Homo sapiens: one gene and its partners. The protein of the gene in region 1 purifies or fractionates together with the protein of each later gene. This does not show direct contact. Each region holds a gene or a part of one and is shown on either strand. Other genes may lie near its edges.

Region 1 (8,955 bases):
TATTTGTAAATATATTGATCTGATTGGATATGGTGCCCTTTTGCTCACACAGCCCCTGCCACACTGGCCTCTTCAGTGCACAGGAACTGTGAGCAAATGTATTTCGACACACCAGGCTGGCTCCAACCCCGGATCCTTTACACTTGCTGTTTGCTCGACCTGGAATGTTTGGCCACCAGCTGTCCACAAGCTCACCCCTCACTGCCTTCAGGTCTTCATTTAGCGAGGCCTTCTCTGACCACTCAGCCTTCACCTTCAGCTCCTCCATCTTTGTGCCCCTTCACTCCTTTTGTTTCTTTCTCTTTTTTCAATTTTTATTTATTTTTTTAGTTTTTGGAGATGGAGTCTCTCTGTCACCAGGCTGGAGTGCAGTGGCGCAATCTCAGCTCACTGCAACCTCAGACTCCCTGGTTCAAGCGATTCTTCTGCCTCAGCCTCCCAAGTAGCTGGGATTACAGGCACGCGCCACCACGCCCAGCTAATTTTTGTATTTTTAGTAGAGACGGGGTTTCACCATGTTGGCCAGGATGGTCTCCATCTCCTGACTTTGTGATCCACCCAGCTCGGCTTCCCAAAGTGCTGGGATTACAGGTGTGAGCCACCACACCTGGCCTTGTTTCTTAAGCACTTACCGCTAACATGCCAAATGTTATCCTTCATCATTGCACCACTGGAATGTAATTTCCATGCGGGCAGATTTGGAAATATATATTTAATTCCCCTTTTCAGCTTTTTTTTTTTTTTTGAGATAAGGTCTTACTCTGTCACCTAGGCTGGCATGTAGTGGCGTAATCTCAGTTTACTGCAGCCTCCGCCGCCCAGACTCAAGCCATCCTCCTACCTCAGCCTCCCAAGTAGCTAGGACCACAGGCATAGACCACCATACTCAGCTAGTTTTTTGTTTGTTTGTTTGTTTTTGATAGAGACGGGGTTTCACCATGTTGCCCAGGCTGGTCTCAACTCCTGAGCTCAGGTGATCTGCCCGCCTTAGCCTCCCAAAGTGCTGGGATTACAGGCCTGAGCCACCGCACGCCAGCCTGCATTTTTTCCAAATGTTCTAATCTTTCTCATTTTATTATTTTTTTTTTTTTAATTTTTTTTTTGACACAAGACCTCACTCTGTCACCCAGCCTGGAGTGCAGTGGCCTGATCACAGCTTACTGCAGCCTTGAACTCCCAGGCTCAAGAGATCCTCCCACCCCAGCCTCTCAAGTAGATGGGACTACAGGCATATGCCACCACACCCAGCTAATTTTTGTATTCTTTTGTAGAGATGGAGTTTGCCCATATTGCCCAGGCTGATCTCCAACTCCTGGGCTCAAGTGATCCTCCCGCTTCAGCCTCCCAAGGTGCTGGGATTACAGGCATGAGCCACCACACCCAGCCCAGCTGTTAATCTTATTGATGATTAATTATACGTGATGGGTCACTTGTCAGTTGCTGCTTTCAAGGTTCTCTTTTTATCGTTCAATAATTTGATTATGATATGTCTGGTGATGGATATCTTTGAGTTTATCCTATTTGAAGATTATTGAGCTTCTTGGCTCTAGATTGATGGTTTTTTTCATCAAATTTTGGGAGTTTTCAGCCATTCTTTCTTCATATATTCTTTTTTACCCCTTTCTTTTTGTCCTCTCCTTCTGGGATTCCCATTATTTGATGATGTCTCACAGGTCTCTGAAGTTCTGTTCACTTATCTTCGTGCTTTTTTCTTTCTGTTCCTTAGACTTGATCATCTCAACTGATCTATACTCACGTTCACCGATCTTTTCTTCTGCCTACTCAAATCTGTTGTTGAACCCTCTATTCCTCTATTGAATTTTTTCTTTTTTTTTTTTTTTGAGACGGAGTCTCGCTCTGTCGCCCAAGCTGGAGTGCAGTGGCGCGATCTCGGCTCACCGCAACCTCCACTTCCCGAGTTCAAGTGATTATCCTGCCTCAGCCTCCTGAGTAGCTGGTACTACAGGCCCATACCACCATGCCTGATTAATTTTGTGTATTTTTAGTAGAGACAGGGTTTCACCATGTTAGCCAGGATGGCCTCGATCTCCTGACCTCGTGATCTGTCCACCTCGGCCTCCCAAAGTGCTGGGATTACAGGCATGAGCCACCACGCCTGGCCCATTTGAATTTTTTCATTTTAGTTACTGTACTTTTCAAGTCCCAAGTTTCTGTTTAGTTCTTTTAAAATAATTTCTGCTTTTAGGCCAGGCATGGTGGCTCACACCTGTAATCCCAGCACTTTGGGAGGCCAAAGTGGGAGGTTCACTTGAGGTCAGGAGTTCAAGACTAGCCTGGCCAACACTCCATCTCAAAAAAAAAGACAGTATTCTTTAGCATTAGTTCCGCTAATGATTGGACAAAGATTTCCTTAGCCTCCAAAAACCAATAATCTCCTAGCCTTTGCTGAGGCATGGTGGGCCATGCTTTCGACATTCAGCCAGGCAATTGACAACTCTGCCTTCGCCACTACTTCTCCCAGGAAGGCACACATCCTCAAGGTCAGCCCAATGTAAGAAGACTGGGTTCTCATCTCTGGTCTTTCTTGAGCCTGCATATACTCCTGGGCATGCACACAACCCTATGCATGCATGTGACCTTCTAGATTTCCAAGAATATTTTGGAGTTTTTCAAAGCCTTCTCATTCCCCAGCTTTATCTTTTAAACTGTTTCATTAGCCTATTATTGGCCTCAACTGTTATTCATTGCTTAGGCAGCTGCCTAGTTAAACAATTGCATGCAATTGTGTTTCACAAATGCCCCTGGGGAAATAATTTTGACGATGTATGAGCTCTAAGTTAGGTCAAATACAGACAACATTGCAAGTAGGGGCTTCCAGGGAACCATAAGACGAATCAAATAATTCTGACTTTCTGGGAGTGAGGCTTTTATGGAGTTTCATCCTCTTCTGCCCCGTTTGGTGTATGCCAGGCTGCTAGTTTCCACTGAGAATGCTGGCAGTTAATATTCAAGGCTACCATGGAGCTGGAATGGGGGAATGGAACTAGGCCAATTAAAAATGTCACAAAGTATAAAAATTAGCCGGGCGTGGTGGCGGGCGCCTGTAATCCTAGCTACTCGGGAGGCTGAGGCAGGAGAATTGCTTGAACCTGGGAGGCAGAGGTTGCAGTGAACTGAGATCGTGCCACTGCATTCCAGCCTGGGCGACAGTGAGACTCTGTCTCAAGAAAACAAAAATAAAAATAAATTTTAAAAAAGTCATAAAGTTCACTGCTCTTACTAAGATTCAGCTGCTTTTCTTGAATAAACACTTTACAGATTTTTGTTGTTGTTGTGGAGACAGAGTCTCACTCTGTCACCCAGGCTGGAGAGCAATGGCACGACCTCAGCTCACTGCAACCTCTGCCTTCGAGGTTCAAGCGATTAGCTCCTGCCTCAGCCTCCTGAGTAGCTGGGATTACAGGCACTTGCCACCACGACTGGCTAATTTTGTATTTTTAGTAGAGATAGGGTTTCACCATGTTAGTCAGCCTGACCTCAGGTGATCCCCCCACCCTGGCCTCCCAAAGTGCTGGGATTACAGGCGTGAGCCACCACGACTGGCCAAAAAAACTATTTTAAAATCTAAAGTGGGTTGACTAAAACCAAATTAACCATTTTAATCGGAAAACATCTCATGTATCTTATTACCAAACCAGTGCCTTGACGATGGGATTTTCAGTGTCATTTGCCAAATTCGCAGGCACCGCAGTGGGGAGCCACTGCTCCCACAGCAGAGGCAATACACGGCCTAGCCTTGGGGTTGAGAAGTTCTGGGGACGGTGTCGGGGGCCCTGGGCCACCATTTTTGCATGGAGCCAGCCCTGCGCTGCGAGGGCGTGGCATCGGAGAGACCGTGGCCTCGTGGGCAGCATCGGCGGCCCCTGGGGACACGCGCTGGCTCAGTCCCCACCTCCGCCAGGGAAGCGGTCTGATGATACCCATTTCGCAGATGGGCAAATCCACAAGCCAAGTCGTGCCGCCCAGAAGAGGCAGAACCGGGATTTGAACCTAGGTTTCTCATTCTGCACCTGAAGAAATAAATGTCTGGTCCATGCGTGTGTTGGGGGGCGACGGGGACTTTTCTTCAACCAAGCCCGGTGTGCCCCCTCTCATTTTCTAGCACGTTCTTCTCCCCCATCTTTGCACTTATCTCAGACTCCCCTCACACACCTATCCTGGGTGCCATCCTTTCCCTCAGCCCACCGCCCATGTAGTCAGCCTCCTAAGCGCCCCTTCCACCTGTCCCCTCATCTCCCCACTGCTCTGCCTCGGTCCAGCCCTGGCCTTGGCAGGGGTCCCTGCCTGGGCCTCCCCACGGGCTCCCGGCCTCACAGAGGAGCAGCCACCTGTGCAAGGTCACACAGCAGGAGAGACACTTCTGGGATTCAGGACCCACCTGTGGGTCCGAAGTGGATTTTTTGTTTGTTTGGTTTTGGAGACAGGGCCTGGCTCTGTCACTCAAGCTGGAGTGCAATGGCACGATCTTGGCTCACTGCAACCTCTGTCCCCAGGTTCAGCCATCCTCCCACCTCAGCCTCCCAAGTAGCTGGGACCACAGGCATGAGCCTGGCTAATTATTTTTGTATTTTTTATAGAAACGGGGTTTCACTATGTCACCCAGTCTGGTCTCAAACTACTGAGCTCAAGCGATCCGCCTACCTCAGTTTCCCAAAGTGCTGGGATTACAGGCCTGAGCTACCACGCCCCGCCCTGATTTGGATCTTGCTCCTATTCCCAGGAAGGCCCATGTCCTAGCAAGAGAGACACCAGGTGGTGCGCACGCCCCTCCACCTCCAACTCCTCCACCGCCAACAAAGCCTGGGACCCAGAGGCCATGGGTCCTACACAATCTGGTATTTCAGGTCTATAAATCATGGGGGTGGCAGGGAGCCCATCAAAGCTGTTCATCCAGCCTGGTCTGCCGGCTCAGCCTCTTGTCCACCCCACTGCCGTGCCCCAAAACACACACACACACACACACACCCTCCCTCCTTCCTGGGAGACTAGCCCAAGGAGGGGCCTGGGCGTATATAGGGAGCCACGGTGGGTGGGGCTGGCCAGAGAGGCTGCAGACAGAGAAGGTGAGGAGGGGGCCCTGGGAGTCTGGGTATGGCATGAGGGGTCTGAGGCTCAGGGAGGGGCAGTGCCAAGTTCAGGCCAGTGACTGCCCCACCGGAGCCCGGGTGTCCTCTTGTGCAAAATGCCTCCCCACCAGGGCTGTGGGTACATCAGTACCAGCCTGGGCCCCGCAGAGAGCTGGAGCAACCCCTCGAAGCCAGGGTGTGGCTCAGAGATGGGGGGTCCGGCTGGCCCTTTACGCTCCTGGCCTCATCCCTGCTCATGTGTCCCAGGATGATGGCGTCTGCGGCAGCAGCGGAGGCCGAGAAGGGATCTCCAGTTGTGGTGGGCCTGCTAGTTGTGGGCAATATCATTATTCTGGTGAGACTCGCCCCAGTGCTGGGAGCCGAGTGGTTGTGTGGTGGGGAGGGGACAGTCCTGAGCTCGGGGTGGGGGATGAGGGTCCAGAACTGTCTCTCGGGCAGACTCAGTGGTCAGCACAGCCTGGGTTGAAATCCCAGCTCTGCCTCTCCCCAGCTCTGTGACCTTAGCAAGCGACTGTCCCTCTCTGTGCCTTCTTTCCTCATCTATAGACTGTGTCCTCATTGTGTGGGCTGTTGTCATGTGGATTAATCCATGTGTGGCCCTCAGCTCAGAGAAAGTGCCCGACCAATGCTGGCTATCACCATCAGCATCACTATGGATATAAAGTGACAGCCTGGTGCACAGGAGGCCACAAGAAGGAAAAACAACAGTGTCTTTCAATTAACATTGGGTTTTGGTTTTGTGTTTTTTGTTTTGTTTTGTTTTGTTTTGTTTTGTTTTGTTTTGTTTTTGAGACGGAGTCTCACTCTGTTGCCCAGGCTGGAGTGCAGTGGCTGATCTCAGCTAACTGCAACCTCTAACTCCCGGGCTCAAGTGATTCTCCTGCCTCAGCCTCCAGAATAGCTGGGATTACAGGCGCACACCACCACGCCCGGCTAATTTTTTTTTTTTCAGACAGATTCTCCCTTTGTCACCCAGGCTGAAGTGCAGTGGCGAGATCTCGGCTCACTGCATCCTCCACCTCCTGGGCTCCAGCAATTCTCCTGCCTCAGCTTCCCGAGCAGCTGGGATTACAGGCACATGCTACCACACCCGGCTACTTTTTGTATTTTTAGAAGAGATGGGGTTTCACCATGTTGGCCAGGCTGGTCTTGAACTCCTGACCTGAGGTGATCTGCCCACCTCAGCCTCCCAAAGTGTTGGGATTACAGGTGTAAGCCACCGCGACTGGCCGTGTGTTTGTTTTAGAGACAGGGTCTCACTCTGTTGACCAGGCTGCAGTGCAGTGGTGTGATGCTTGCTCACTGCAGCCTCCAACTCCTGGGCTCAACTGATCCTCCTGCCTCAGCCTCCCAAGTAGCTGGGACTACAGGTGCACATCACCACATCTAGCTAATTTTTTTATTTTTTGTAGAGACGGGGTCTCACTATTGCCCAGGCTAGTCTCAAACTCCTGGGCTCAAGCAATCCTCCCGCCTCGGCCTCCCACAATGCTGGGACTGCAGGTGTGAGCCACCTTGCCTGGCCCATTTGTAATGTTTATGGCCATGGCCATGTTCCCCTCCTCGGGGAATAACAGCACTGTCAAGGGAGGGCAGATGGACCAAGCATCTCCTCTGTGCCAGTCCACTGCTCCAGCCTTTCCACGTGGCATCCCCTTTTATCCCCGAAGAAACTGGCAGCTGGGGCGTGGGGGTCGGTTGTCTGGCTGGGCTGTCTCTTCTCTCCTGGCCTCTGCTCACCCTCATCGCTGCTCATGGAAGGCGAGGTCTTTGCCCACTTTACTGAGAGGGCAGTGGAGGCTCCAAATGGGGAGGGAACTTGCTCGTGGAGATGCCTGGTGCCAGGGCTGCTGGCCCCGAGCAGACCTTCCTAACCCACCGCTCTGTCCAGCTGTCAGGCCTGTCCCTGTTTGCTGAGACCATATGGGTGACAGCCGACCAGTACCGTGTATACCCACTGATGGGAGTCTCAGGCAAGGATGACGTCTTCGCTGGTGCCTGGATTGCCATCTTCTGCGGCTTCTCCTTCTTCATGGTAGCCAGTTTTGGTGTGGGTGCCGCACTCTGCCGCCGCCGGTCCATGGTCCTCACGGTGAGACTCCAGGGGTTGGGGGATGGGGACACTGAAAACGGAGTTCAGCATCACTGAGTCATAGTAGCAGGTGCAGCCCCAGCCACTAGTGTGAGTTCCCCATGGTGTCACACTCAGGGATCCCAGGCATCATCTCATTCAGTCTTCCCACAGCCCAATAACCCAGGCTTGAGTAGCAGAGCTGGGATTTTTTCTTTTTTTTTTTTTTGGTAAAGATGGGGGTCTCACTATGTTGCCCAGGCTGGTCTCAAACTCCTGGCTCAAATGATTCTCCTGCCTCAGCCTCCCAAAGTGCTGGGATTACAGGCTTGAGCCCCTCTACCTGCACCCAGTGCAGGGCTAGAATTTGAACCCCTGCTAGCTGCTTTCCAGAGTCCATGCTCATGAACTCTGCCAATAATAGCACAGCTACCATTTAATAATGGTTTACTACAAGCCACGAGCTGTTCTAAATGGTTTACTGGATTAGTTCATTTATTCCTCATAGTCCACCAAGAGATACTGTCATCATCATGACCCTGTTTGATGAAGATTGAAACTGAGGCTCAGAGAAGTGAAGTCACTTATCCAGGGTCACACATTGAGACAATGGCAGAGCCAGTTTCAACCTGAGCAGATCGGCTCTTGAGGCTGTGCTCTTAATCTCTGCCCACAAGAATAACCCATACTTCCCAAGTGTCTCTCATGCACCTGACACTAGGGTAAGCAGTTTAGAAAATGAGCTTCGTGGCCAGGCGCAGTGGCTCATGCCTGTAATCCCAGCACGTGGGGAGGCTGAGGCGGACAGATCATTTGAGGTCGGGAGTCCAAGACCAGACTGGCCAACATGGCGAAATCCCATCTCTAAAAAAAAAAAAAAAAAAAAAATTAGCCACGCATGGTGGCAGGCACCTGTAATCCCCGCTACTCAGGAGGCTGGGGCGGAAGAATCACTAGAACCCGGGAGGCAGAGGTTGCAGTGAGCCAAGATCACACCACTGCATTCCAGCCTGGATGACAAAGCGAGACTCCATCTCAAAAAAAAGGAAAGAAAATGAGCTTCCTCAATCTTGCCAGAAGCCCTTCACAGCTAGTGCTTTTCAACCCATTTACCAGATGAGGAAACTGAGGCTCAAAGAGGCTAACAGCCTCTCCCAGGTGACCAGGAGAGCAGGGATTCCAATTCACGGCCCCAATGACACAGAGACAGCACTGTGTTTCCTCGACAGCAGAGGGTTTTTCAGATTCCCAGAAGCAGCCACTCATTTGATGAACAAATGCTTATGAGCAGGAGCTACATGCTGAGCCCTACGCTGGGCACTGGGGCTCTGTGCTGAGCGAAACATAAAAGCCCTTGACCCAGGGAAGTGGTGCTCAGAGGAGGAAGACAGTGAACAGGAGGGGAGGTCAGGAGCCGAGGAGGGCGAGGGAAGACCTCACTGCCAGGGAAAGCAAAGACCTAGAGGCACTGGGAGCGAGGCAGGTGTGTAACTGGAGGAAGAGCCTTCCAGGTGGAGGTGGCAGCAAGGGCAAAGGCTCTGAGGCCAGAGCGGGCCAGGAGTCCAAAGCAGCTGGAGCTGAGTGAGGAGGAGGTTGGGGGGTGAGAGGACATGAGGCAGACAGATGGGGAGGAGAACAGTGAGGAATGGGGATGGGAAAGAAGCAGGAGGGAAGGCAGGTGTTGTGGACTTTGGCTTTATCCTGAGTAAGATGGACCCATAGACCCCCTGCTCCCCTCCCCTCCCTTCCCCTCCCCTTCCCTCCCCTCCCCTCTCC
Region 2 (8,212 bases), on another chromosome or scaffold:
AGGGGTGGCTTTTTATCTCCTGGGTGTGCTTCTGCTTCTTTGCTTGCAAGGCTTCTCAGAATGGGGCCCCATGAAGCCTGAGGGACTCTCTCCTGATAACACCCTGTGCCACCTTTTTCATTCTGGATCCGCACCCAGGAGCCCGTGGACAAGGCCCACTGCCTGAGCCTGAACTAGGAGCACCTCCTAGGGACTGCCCAGGCTTGCTCTGCTCTGACCCTTCTGCTGGCCAGTCTGGGCACCTGGTGAGTGCCCAGAAAGGGAGGGAAGGGAAGCTGTCCTTTCACCCCAAACAGCAAGGCCTGGGCCCAGCTAGGCCTGAGTGTGGGGAATGTGTCAGTGCACATCTGCCTGGCTTCCCATGCCACCCAATGGGAAAGCTGTTTAATCTGCTGGTGCCAGGGGGTCTCCCCCTACACAAATGGGGAGCAGGAGAGGGACGCTGAGGCAGAAGGATAGGTGCTTTGGGATCCACCCCTCCAATCTTCTTTTCAAGGTCACTCTTAGAAAGGGGAAGCGGACAGGAGCCTGTGACAGAGAGGAACTAAGGGAGGACTAGGTGACCCTGGGGTCGGGAGGGGGGAGGGGGAAGGGCTGTGCCCCCACATCCATTATGAAATATTTTCTTGGAAAACCGGCCAGCAACTAGGAAGCCCCTGGGCAGTGGCTGGAAAGAAAGGTTAAGGTGCCAACAGCAGAGAGACTGGAATCTGGGTTGCCTTCAGGAGAGGACAGCCCCACTCTAGCCATGAATCCAGGGGCTCCCCAGGGAGGGTGGAGAGACCAGACTTGCAGAGAGGGGCCTGGGGAGCCTCTGGTTTGACCTCAGTCATCATCGATGTTGTCGCAGCTGCTGCAGATCTGCCTGTTCCGTGTCCTTCCTCCTCCTCCCCCGACCTCTTTGCTGTGTCTCCTCCATTTGTCTCCCTCCTTCCCTTGTCATCACTGTCCCTGACCCCTCTCGTCCTCTTGCCTGCCTTCTTTGACTGTCTTTCCCTCCCTCCCATCATCTTTCCTCCTCCTTCCCTCCTGCTCTCCACCCTCCTGTTTCCCAGCTTATAAACTGCTTCGGCTGCTGGATAAAAATAGCGGTGGCAGCGGCCAGGCCGGGAGCCAGGTAGAGTCTGAGCAGGCAGGGGGGCCGCGCAGGACTGGCCTGCTGGGCCAGGGGGCTGGGTGGGGGTCAAGTTGAGTCGTCCTGAGGGGCAGGGTGCAGAGGGGGTCTTACTGGACTCCTCCACTGGCCTGTTCTGTCAGCCCTGCCCCCTCTCCCCCTAAGAGCCTGAGGAGGCCTATGGCAGGGCCAAGACAGGGCCTCACACTGTTCCTGCCCCCAGCAGGCCCCTGAGGGAGGGAGCTGTCAGCCAGGGAAAACCGAGAACACCATCACCATGACAACCAGTCACCAGCCTCAGGACAGGTAAGGGGTAAGGGGCTGGGCTGTGGATCCAGGGAATGGGTTTTCAGGGAGCTGGGTGTGGTGTCCTTTGGAATTGGGGGTTGCCATTGCTGGCTGGCCTTCCAGCCAGGTAGCTATGAGTCAGGTCTGCATCAGGGGTGGGGACCCCGTGTGCCTTGGCTGGGTGCTGGCTGGGGTGTCTGCGGGAAGGGCAGGGTGCGTGGGCAGCAGTCCTTCCCTGGCCTGTCTGTGTTTCCACTGTTGCTCTCCAGCCAGTTAGCGGCTTTCGGCTCCTCCCGCCACCACTGTGGGGAGATACTTGGCTGCACCCCTCCTTCCAATGCACATCTGGCAGAACTGCCCTGGGGCCTCTGCCTTAGATGACCTGGCCCACCCTGGTTCTTGATCTGATCTTCCTCTCAATTCCCTGCCTCTGGAGCCTGTGAACTCCCAGTCAAGTTAGACTTGCAGTTATGACTGTGAATATGTATTTTGGAAGAAGAGGCTGTAGCTTAATTCAATTTCTCAAAGGGATCTGGGACCCAAGAAGGCTGAGGAAGTGATCCCTGAGATCCAAAGCTCCTTCAAAGCGTCAGGCTCTGTCCTGCCCTCCAACTCAGGCCCCAGAAACCCATCACGTCTGCCCTACCCACCCCATCTCCCTCCTGTGCCAAAGGCTATGAAACTAGGCCACTTTTGCCTGTGGGGGCTTTGAGCATGTAGCTTAATCTCTCTGGGACTGTTTTTCCACCTGTAAAATAAGCTAAAAGTATCTACTTCCCAGGAAGTGGATCTAGAAGTAAGGGAATTTAAGGAGGCATGGCAATAAGTCCAGGCCCCAGGTTGCTTCCCTGCCTCCTGTGCTCCATTCCCAGGCTGCCTGCCCATTCTGTCCCCACCTCCGCTCTCCTGTGGGCAGTTCCCTGAAGGCCTCGCCGGCTCCATTTGCCTTATTGCACAGCTCAGTCATTTCCCAGCGTACTCCCCCCAACCCCGATCCTCTGTCCTATGTGACTTTGGGAGTTTTTCCTTCTGCTCTGGGCCTCCGAACCAAGCCTTTAGCTTCTCCAAGGGAAGCATGTATGTGAGGGGGTTGGGGGGGCTGCAGTTGCATTAACTCGGACCTGCTCACGTGGTGTGCTCACCACGCCATCCCTGTATGAGGCCTGCCAGCGGTCCAGGCTCCTGCACTCTGGCCAGGCCTGTCTTCTCACTGCCTTGGGCTTTATCCCTGCCATCTCTGAAGAGAGCTGGTGTTGGCTCTGGGGAGGGTGTGCAAACCCAACTGGAGATCTACATGGGCCGGGCTGGGGTTACTCAGCTTTCAGGCAAGGCCTATCTGGGAGAAGCTGGCGTGACCCGGAAGGGCCTTGAGGTATAGGGCTTGGGGCATTGCCCTGGCCAAAGGTGGACAGTCCTTATTTACACCCTGAGGCCCAGATGGCCTCCAGTGGCCCCATACCTCCTGGCCTGCCCTGGGTGGTATGAACTACAAAGTTCTATTTGGCCAGGAAGAAAATGGCTCTAAGGCCCTCTCTTCACAGCGGCCCTGAGGCACCCTGCCCACCTGCCCTGTAGGTCCAGAATAGTATGGGAGTTTCTTAACTTCAGAATCCTCTCTGGGGAGTAACACAGTCCCTGACCAGACAGCATAATTACTTCCAGCCTGCCTGGTGGGAGTGGAAGACACTTGCTGCTTGCTTTCTCACTCATCCACCCACCCCCTGCCCTTCGGCAGGATTTCCAAAACCATCTCCGGATGTGTGGGTCACACTGGTTCCCAGCCTGCAGAGTCCCCCGAGCCTTCCAGGGCTGATAACCATGGTCCTGTCAGCCATGCCATTCAGTCCTATGACCCTGACCCCATCCCCACCCCAAATTCCAACGAGCAATGTACCCTTTTCTCCCCCCACACCCATAAGAGGACACATGCAAACGGACACAAACACAGACGCCCTGTGCCCTGGGACCTAGAGAGACTGACAACGGACAGGGGCTTTCCTGGGGCTCATTGTGGAGTGGGGCAGGATGGTGCGTCATTTGGCCCATCTTTCCTCCTCCATTGCAGATACAAAGCTGTCTGGCTTATCTTCTTCATGCTGGGTCTGGGAACGCTGCTCCCGTGGAATTTTTTCATGACGGCCACTCAGGTGAGGCTGGAGGGACTGGGCTCCATGGGGCAGTGCCCACTGTGCTTGCAGGATCTGACTCTGTGCTGGTAGGCACAGGGAAAGAGATTTCAACACTCCTCTCTGCAACCCCTGCAGTATTTCACAAACCGCCTGGACATGTCCCAGAATGTGTCCTTGGTCACTGCTGAACTGAGCAAGGACGCCCAGGCGTCAGCCGCCCCTGCAGCACCCTTGCCTGAGCGGAACTCTCTCAGTGCCATCTTCAACAATGTCATGACCCTATGTGCCATGCTGCCCCTGCTGTTATTCACCTACCTCAACTCCTTCCTGCATCAGAGGTGAGTGCCCACCCCCTCCCCAGCCCCCAGCCTGACCCTCACTGTGTCCTGCACCCCCTTGGCTGAGCCCCAGCTTTGCCCACTTGTCTCTGCCACCCTTGGCCTCTCCCGGCAGGATCCCCCAGTCCGTACGGATCCTGGGCAGCCTGGTGGCCATCCTGCTGGTGTTTCTGATCACTGCCATCCTGGTGAAGGTGCAGCTGGATGCTCTGCCCTTCTTTGTCATCACCATGATCAAGATCGTGCTCATTAATTGTAAGCTGGGCCAGGAGGGGGCCTATGGGAGGAGGCATGCCCAACTACCCCCACTCTTTTTTCAGACCCAGCGTTAGCCAGAGAGAAGCCCAGCCTCCGCCTGGAGGGAGTGGATGCTGTGAGCAGCTGGGATTCAGAGGCCTGAGTGGGCCTGGACCAGGGCTGGGAGGGGGCAGAGAGAAGGGCAGCTCAGCCTCAAGGCTCACCAAGAGTAAAGTAGGAATGACAGGGATCTGTCTTCTTGGGCACCCCCAACCACCAGCCCTAGCTCCCCTGCTCATGCCCGCCCTGTTTCCCCAGCATTTGGTGCCATCCTGCAGGGCAGCCTGTTTGGTCTGGCTGGCCTTCTGCCTGCCAGCTACACGGCCCCCATCATGAGTGGCCAGGGCCTAGCAGGCTTCTTTGCCTCCGTGGCCATGATCTGCGCTATTGCCAGTAAGTCCGGCTATCTACCTGCCCAGTGCCCTGGTGTGGTGGGGAGAGGGGATGGGGCCTGTCTCTGATCACTGACACCACCCCAGGTGGCTCGGAGCTATCAGAAAGTGCCTTCGGCTACTTTATCACAGCCTGTGCTGTTATCATTTTGACCATCATCTGTTACCTGGGCCTGCCCCGCCTGGTGAGTAAATGGAGGGAGCTGGGGTTTGGGGTATAGGGGTCTGGGGTTCCAGACCACGGGTGTTCTGAGGACAAAACCTGAAGGAGGCCGGGATTCTGGAGATTCTGCCTCTAAATCCACCTCCCCCGTCTCCCTTACTTGATAGGAATTCTACCGCTACTACCAGCAGCTCAAGCTTGAAGGACCCGGGGAGCAGGAGACCAAGTTGGACCTCATTAGCAAAGGTCCGAAGAGCCTGAGGAAGCTGGGGTGGAGGATGGTATACCAGGCGGGGGATAGCATGAGCAAAGAGAACAAAGATGAGTGCCCTGTGTTAGCTAGCAGCCCTGAGCCAGAGGAGGACTGAAGGACTACAGCAGGGAGAGGGGGACAATAGGAAATAAGGGCCGGCAATGATAAAATGGGGGCAGATCCTGGATGACCTTGAATGCCTGAGGTGTTTGGACTAAAGGCAGTGGGAAGCAATTTCAGATTCTTGAGTGAGGAGTAACATGACCTGAGGCTCCTGGGAGAGGCCAGGCCCCCGGGTCTTGAGTTGTAGGGATTTGGAGGCGAGGTCTGGGTTAGGGTTAGAGTACGGCTGGGACTGGTTAAGGAGGCGTCTACTTTCAAGTAATCCCAGCCGTTTTGGGGAATGTTTATGTTGTCTTCTGTTGCTCTGTCTTCCCCACAACTTGGAGATTTCTTCCATCCCGCAGGAGAGGAGCCAAGAGCAGGCAAAGAGGAATCTGGAGTTTCAGTCTCCAACTCTCAGCCCACCAATGAAAGCCACTCTATCAAAGCCATCCTGAAAAATGTACGTAGGGGAGGTTATCCTATCTTCTACCCCTTGTCCTCTTTCTCTCCTCCTTTTGCTCCCTCCCCCTGCCACCCATCTCCTCCCTTTCTGACCTGAGAGTGGTCACTCCTGGATTCTTTTGTGTGTGCGTGCGTGCCCATGCGTGCGTGCCGGGGGTGGGGATTCGTGGTTCCTTTTTTTTGAGACAGAGTTTCACACTTGTTGCCCAGGCTGGAGTGCAATGGTGCAATCTCCACTCGCTGCAACCTCCATCTCCTGGGTTCAAGTGATTCTCCTGCCTCAGCCTCCCAAGTAGCTGAGATTACAGGCATATGCCACCATGCCCGGCTAATTTTTTGTATTTAGTAGAGATGGGGTTTCACCAGGTCAAGCTGGTCTCAAACTCCTGACCTCAGGTGATCCACCCACCTCGGCCTCCCAAAGTGCTGAGATTACAGGCGTGAGCCACCACGCCTGGCCTGGATTCGTGGTTCTTTAATGCACAGCCACCATGAAGACACAGGCATTTGGGTGACTCTACCCCTTCTATCTAGATCTCAGTCCTGGCTTTCTCTGTCTGCTTCATCTTCACTATCACCATTGGGATGTTTCCAGCCGTGACTGTTGAGGTCAAGTCCAGCATCGCAGGCAGCAGCACCTGGGGTGAGGATGCCACAGGTTTCCAGGATGGGAACAGACAGGATCTTGAGTTGGGCTGGAAGTGGGGAAGGGAGGGAGCCTGGGTCACCTTCTCCCCGTTTCCTGGGTCCATTTGCCCTTCCCTGGGCTGGAAGCATCTTCTCCATTTTACTGTTGGGGAAGCTGAGGCCCAGTGAAGGTTAGGCTTGCTATACCTGCCTCTGTGAGCCTGATAACCACCCGTTCATCTCCTCTTCCAGAACGTTACTTCATTCCTGTGTCCTGTTTCTTGACTTTCAATATCTTTGACTGGTTGGGCCGGAGCCTCACAGCTGTATTCATGTGGGTAAGTGGAGGAAGAGGGCCCCAGGCCCCTGTGGGAAGTAAGAGTCCAGCCTGGACCCAGAGAGGGAACCCAAGAAAGTATGGTAGTAAGGGGACCATTTGTTTTAAAGTCGAGGCATAATTTATGTATAGTTAAGTACAAGTCTTAAGTGTACAACTTAATGAATATATGTATATACACATACCTGCCCAGATCGAGATGTAGAATATTTCCAGCACTCCAGAAGGCTCCACCATGCCCCTTTCAAGAGTAACCCCCTAAGGAGAACCAGGCTTTGAGGTTTCAGTTCAGATCCTGAGGGGCCCCAGATGGATCCTTGGGGGCCTGGCTGTGCCCTGGGGTGGCGGCCTGGGCTGAGGCCCTGCCTGGTGCCCACAGCCTGGGAAGGACAGCCGCTGGCTGCCAAGCCTGGTGCTGGCCCGGCTGGTGTTTGTGCCACTGCTGCTGCTGTGCAACATTAAGCCCCGCCGCTACCTGACTGTGGTCTTCGAGCACGATGCCTGGTTCATCTTCTTCATGGCTGCCTTTGCCTTCTCCAACGGCTACCTCGCCAGCCTCTGCATGTGCTTCGGGCCCAAGTGAGTAGGGCTGGCAGGGAACTTGGTGGCATCAGACAGGATCTAGAGTTCCAGTGGGGGACACTCAGTAGAGGGAGGGCAAAAGGAGAGTCCCTGCTCCCAGAGCTGAGAGGAGAGATGGCTCAGGAGGGGCTCCCAGGCTGAGGGGATAGTGACTGTAGTGGAGGGGGGCGCCAAGCTTACTTGGGTGGAGGTGGAGACAGGTTTGCAGGAAGGAGTGAAAGACAACCCCACCATACACGTTCCCTCAAGGAGGAGAAGCCAGGTTGGGGTTAGGCAGCCAGGATGGGTTGATCAACAGAATGAGGTTCGACAGTCAAGTTGCTCCACCCCACCCCTCCTTCCACCCAGAGGCTCTGGGCTGGGGTACAGCCATTCTGAGGTAGCCTTGCCCTTCCTTCCCCGCTTAGGAAAGTGAAGCCAGCTGAGGCAGAGACCGCAGGAGCCATCATGGCCTTCTTCCTGTGTCTGGGTCTGGCACTGGGGGCTGTTTTCTCCTTCCTGTTCCGGGCAATTGTGTGACAAAGGATGGACAGAAGGACTGCCTGCCTCCCTCCCTGTCTGCCTCCTGCCCCTTCCTTCTGCCAGGGGTGATCCTGAGTGGTCTGGCGGTTTTTTCTTCTAACTGACTTCTGCTTTCCACGGCGTGTGCTGGGCCCGGATCTCCAGGCCCTGGGGAGGGAGCCTCTGGACGGACAGTGGGGACATTGTGGGTTTGGGGCTCAGAGTCGAGGGACGGGGTGTAGCCTCGGCATTTGCTTGAGTTTCTCCACTCTTGGCTCTGACTGATCCCTGCTTGTGCAGGCCAGTGGAGGCTCTTGGGCTTGGAGAACACGTGTGTCTCTGTGTATGTGTCTGTGTGTCTGCGTCCGTGTCTGTCAGACTGTCTGCCTGTCCTGGGGTGGCTAGGAGCTGGGTCTGACCGTTGTATGGTTTGACCTGATATACTCCATTCTCCCCTGCGCCTCCTCCTCTGTGTTCTCTCCATGTCCCCCTCCCAACTCCCCATGCCCAGTTCTTACCCATCATGCACCCTGTACAGTTGCCACGTTACTGCCTTTTTTAAAAATATATTTGACAGAAACCAGGTGCCTTCAGAGGCTCTCTGATTTAAATAAACCTTTCTTG
Region 3 (4,099 bases), on another chromosome or scaffold:
TGATTTTTATCCCCATTTTACAGATAAGGAAACAGGCTGCGGGTGGGGAGTGAGGGGAGGTAAAGATAGTTAGTTGCCTAAGGTCACACAGCCAGTAAGTAATAGAGCTGGGACTGGAACCCAGGTTTCCTTACTCTCATCTATTGCTCCTCCATATTCCTCACTCAACCATGAAAACATTACTTGAAAGGACTGATGAGGTTAACCAGAGACCTAACTGATATTGTAACTTTCTATTTTAAGGAAGAATTGTGTCTGTATTTGAGTTCTTTGGAGCCTCCAGTCTGCCTGTGTGTTAGACCAGCACAGCAGTGCTGTGTGATGCAGCCTGACCTGTGGCAGGAAAGTAGTGCTTCTGTTTGGAAGTCATGTTCTTTTGCAGCCACACAGGATCCAAATATCAGTACTATTCCTGTAGTCAATCTGGGGTCACATTATAGGTGCCTTATTTCCCTAAGGGTAACTGATCTGAATATCTGCAAATAGGATGAATCTATTTTTCAGAAGTTCCATCTTTCATTTTTCTTTTTTTTTTTGAGACAGAGTCTCATTCTGTCGCCCATGCTGGAGTGCAGTGGCGCGATCTCGGCTCGCTGCAACCTCTGCCTCCCAGGTTGAAGCAATTCTCATGCCTCAGCCACCCGAGTAGCTGGGATTACAGGCATGCGCCATCATGCCCAGCTAATTTATGTATTTTTAGTAGAGTTGGAGTTTCACCATGTTGGCCAGGCTGGTCTTGGACTCCTGACCTCAGGTCATCCACCCGCCTCAGCCTCCCAAAGTGCTGGTATTACAGGCGTGAGCCACCGCACCCAGCCCCATCTTTCATTTTCAAAGAGAAGGGCATTCTAATAGGAACTGGTGCCAAGAGAGAAGAAAAGAAGTGATAACAGAAGAAATGGCTAGTTACAATATTAAAAAGCTCCTCTTTGAGATCTCCTCTGCAGGAATATCAGAGACGGAGTTGAAGCGCTGGAGAGGTAATAGGTCTAGACAGTACAGAACAATAACTGGGGAGTGTGTGAGGATAGACTGGGCTCCCCCTTGCTTGAAAGATCTCTGGCATTTAATTCTCAATTCTTGATTACTATTTTCCAGTGTAAAACTAGCACATATGATCTGACTACAGGACAGAGAATTTTAAGTGAAACATTTGCCTTACTTGCAGTAATAATGTGCTGTTCTTCACAGTAGCTAAGGCCCTCTATGTTTCCCAGAGGTAAATAAGAATCCAGGAATGGAGGTCCATCTGTGATGAATGGCTTTTTTCTAATCAAAGTAGTATAATGCTGTTTTATCTGTTTTGTCATCTTGTTTTTTTTTTTTTTTAAAAAAACAAAACCTTAATTATAATATAGCGCAAAGAAAGGCCAGGACTGATGCAGGGATTCCTTGGAAATATCAGTTCCTATCACTTTTAAAACCTGATTTTGGATCTCTCTGTTCTATGTATGTCTTTAGTGAGAGCACAATACATGGCAGAACGCTGTGCCAAATGTTATAGGTAAGGAATATAGAAATGAATGTTTTTTGTTGTGAAGGTGTTTTCATGTGATATTTTATAAACACATTTTAAAAAATCTCCATCACTTTTTAGTATAGGAAGGATAGCTTTGCCTGGGAAAAACAGTTTCAACACACCTGCTCAGAGTAGCAGTTCTCCCTCAAAAAAGCAGTGTTCAGCCTGCACTGACTGTTCTGCTTGCCAAAAGGAGGAAGCATGCAAGATACTTATTTCTCCATAGATTGTGGAGTATAGAGGGATGTGGGACTACAGATTATTATTTTTTTTCCCCGAGACAGAGTCTTGCTCTGTCGCCCAGGTTGGAACACAATGGCACGACCTCAGCTCACTGCAACCTCTGTCTCCCGGGTTCAAGCAATTCTCCTGCTTCAGCCTCCTGAGTAGCTGGGATTACAGGCACACACCACCACCGCACTCAGCTAATTTTTGTATTTTTAGTAGAGGTGGGGTTTTACCATGTTGGCCAGGCTGGTCTTAAACTCCTGACCTTGTAATCATCCCGCCTCGGCCTCCTAAAGTGCTAGGATTACAGGCATGAGCCACCGCACCCGGCCCAGATAATTTTTAATAGCCTTTGATCATGGGGTGAGTGAGGGAGTAGGTATACTTGGCAAATGCATGGTTCTCTGATTTCTAGCTCTAAAGCAGCCTTATCTGAATCCCCAAATCTTGTGATGCTGAGTACCATTACTGAACCAGTCTGCACGGTAGGCATCTGCTACCAAAATTTACCTCCTACCTGGTAGGTGTCATCTGATAAGAAAGAAGACAGGTTATTTTAATTTTTTGAGATAATCACAGAAAATTGCAGCCCATACTCTTTATTACCGAATTCAAGTTTGGAAATAGACCCTTTGTTTTAAATCATGATGGGTCTTTATCCCAATCATTTATCTGGGTCATTTTTCCAACTTTGGAGTTCTAGGAAAGAACCTTGAAAACCTGATATGATTCTGCAGCATGAGGTCTACGGTGACCATTTGGGCAAAGCTCCAGTGGCAATCATTTATTGTGTTTTGCATTTCCTGGGATTTATTGAAATAAGAATTCACTGTGATTATGTAGTCTTCTGGCTAGTATCAGGCAGCTCTGCTTTTAATTTGGTTAATTTTATTTTCTCTGAAGAGGGAGAAGAGGTACAATTTAATCTTGGCCTCCACAAGCATATTAAAGCTCACGTGTTAATCAGTGCATTCTTATGCTCCTACATTAAATGCCTTGGGTAAATGGATAAATGGACATGTGCCCAGCTTTAATTTTTTTTGCAACAGAAAGATCAGACTTCCGTATGGCATCGTTGGATTTCAGAGGCTTTCTGGTGTATCTGTAAATCTGAATGTTGCCTTCTGCCAGTCTGTATAACCAGGTGATTCATGCTGCAAATGAAATCAGGAAGCAGTAAAGTGTTAAAGCAAGAGTATTGTCCAATTCACTTGTCTTCCTGATCCTTGTACTTTATTTCACGTGTCGGTGTTTACATTACATACTTATATTTCCTGTGAAAGAAAGAGTTAAATAAATTGTAGCAGTTTGATTTTCTTTTTCTTAATGTGACATTTTCTCTTTTGCTTTTAAATCTTTCTTGGAAATTGGAAACTGAAGGAGCTCAAGTCCTTTCTCCCTGACTCCAGCCCTATTCCTCAGTGTGGAGACCTGCCTTCTACAGGCCAAATATCCCAGAATGTTTATTCTGAAAACTTTAGAAGAAGACTTTGGGAAACCCAGTGAGGATTAGTTTTATTTTAACTATGTTAAAACCACGCACAGTAGGAATTAATATATGGGCCAGGCGTAGTGGCTCACGCCTGTTATCACAGCACTGTGGGATGCCGAGACGGGTGGATCATTTGAGGTCAGGAGTTCGAGACCAGCCTGACCAACATGGTGAAACCACGTCTCTACTAAAAATACAAAATAGCTGGGCGTAGTGGCGCATGCCTGTAATCCCAGCTACTTGGGAGGCTGAGGCAGGAGAATCACTTGAACCTGGGAGGTGGAGGTTGCAGTGAGCCAAGATTGCACCATTCCACTCCAGCCTGGGCAACAAGAGTGAGACTCCATCTAAAAAAAAAATAATAAAAAATGAATAAAAATTAAAAGGAATTACTCAATACATGAACATTGTACCTAAAAGAGATGAAGTCCTGGATCCATCTTAAGTTTTTGGAATGAGAATCACTGGACTGTGAGAGTCTAATTTTCTTAGAAATCCTAATCCAGTTATATCTAACACTTAGGTAATTTCCCCCTTTGTTGGGGTTGTCAGAAGGAATAAATTTTTTTTAATTTTTATATTTTAGAAATGGCATGTGTTACATTGTTCAGGCTGGCCTTAAACAACAAACAGTCCTCCTGCCTCAACCTCTTAAGTAGCTAGGACTACAGGCATGCACCACTGCACCCAGCTGGAATAAATTTTTTTTTGTAAATGAATTCCTAATGTCCTTGTTATGCCATGGACTTTATACCCTATAACTTCTAGCAGCCATCTGGTGTTGTGCCGTTGGTTATTATTATTCTTCCTATAGGACCCCAGATGCCCTTAACTTGGTTTGATTTATTTCTCCCAAATTG

Evidence for each region. The genes of interacting proteins can lie anywhere in the genome.
Region 2: the proteins of UPK1A (region 1) and SLC29A1 purify together in Homo sapiens (affinity purification with mass spectrometry; 2 studies listed by BioGRID and IntAct, with this or other methods). This does not show direct contact.
Region 3: the proteins of UPK1A (region 1) and ALG9 purify together in Homo sapiens (affinity purification with mass spectrometry; 2 studies listed by BioGRID and IntAct, with this or other methods). This does not show direct contact.

Annotation. Positions count from the first base shown.
Region 1 is NC_000019.10:35,661,455-35,670,409, forward strand, and holds the start of UPK1A (uroplakin-1a), read left to right. Parts: upstream 1-5,062; 5' UTR 5,063-5,084; intron 5,085-5,354; 5' UTR 5,355-5,358; coding exon 5,359-5,442; intron 5,443-6,493; exon of another isoform or gene 6,494-6,999; coding exon 7,000-7,200; exon of another isoform or gene 7,201-7,231; intron 7,232-8,955. UniProt on the Homo sapiens protein: Component of the asymmetric unit membrane (AUM); a highly specialized biomembrane elaborated by terminally differentiated urothelial cells.
Region 2 is NC_000006.12:44,225,923-44,234,134, forward strand, and holds part of SLC29A1 (equilibrative nucleoside transporter 1), read left to right. Parts: intron 1-138; exon of another isoform or gene 139-245; intron 246-1,087; exon of another isoform or gene 1,088-1,117; intron 1,118-1,337; coding exon of another isoform or gene 1,338-1,391; coding exon 1,392-1,420; intron 1,421-3,467; coding exon 3,468-3,549; intron 3,550-3,666; coding exon 3,667-3,869; intron 3,870-3,984; coding exon 3,985-4,124; intron 4,125-4,424; coding exon 4,425-4,559; intron 4,560-4,645; coding exon 4,646-4,743; intron 4,744-4,888; coding exon 4,889-4,967; intron 4,968-5,441; coding exon 5,442-5,539; intron 5,540-6,075; coding exon 6,076-6,184; intron 6,185-6,420; coding exon 6,421-6,506; intron 6,507-6,884; coding exon 6,885-7,084; intron 7,085-7,494; coding exon 7,495-7,606; 3' UTR 7,607-8,212. UniProt on the Homo sapiens protein: Uniporter involved in the facilitative transport of nucleosides and nucleobases, and contributes to maintaining their cellular homeostasis. Functions as a Na(+)-independent transporter.
Region 3 is NC_000011.10:111,781,155-111,785,253, reverse strand, and holds the end of ALG9 (alpha-1,2-mannosyltransferase ALG9), read left to right. Parts: 3' UTR 1-3,059; downstream 3,060-4,099. UniProt on the Homo sapiens protein: Mannosyltransferase that operates in the biosynthetic pathway of dolichol-linked oligosaccharides, the glycan precursors employed in protein asparagine (N)-glycosylation.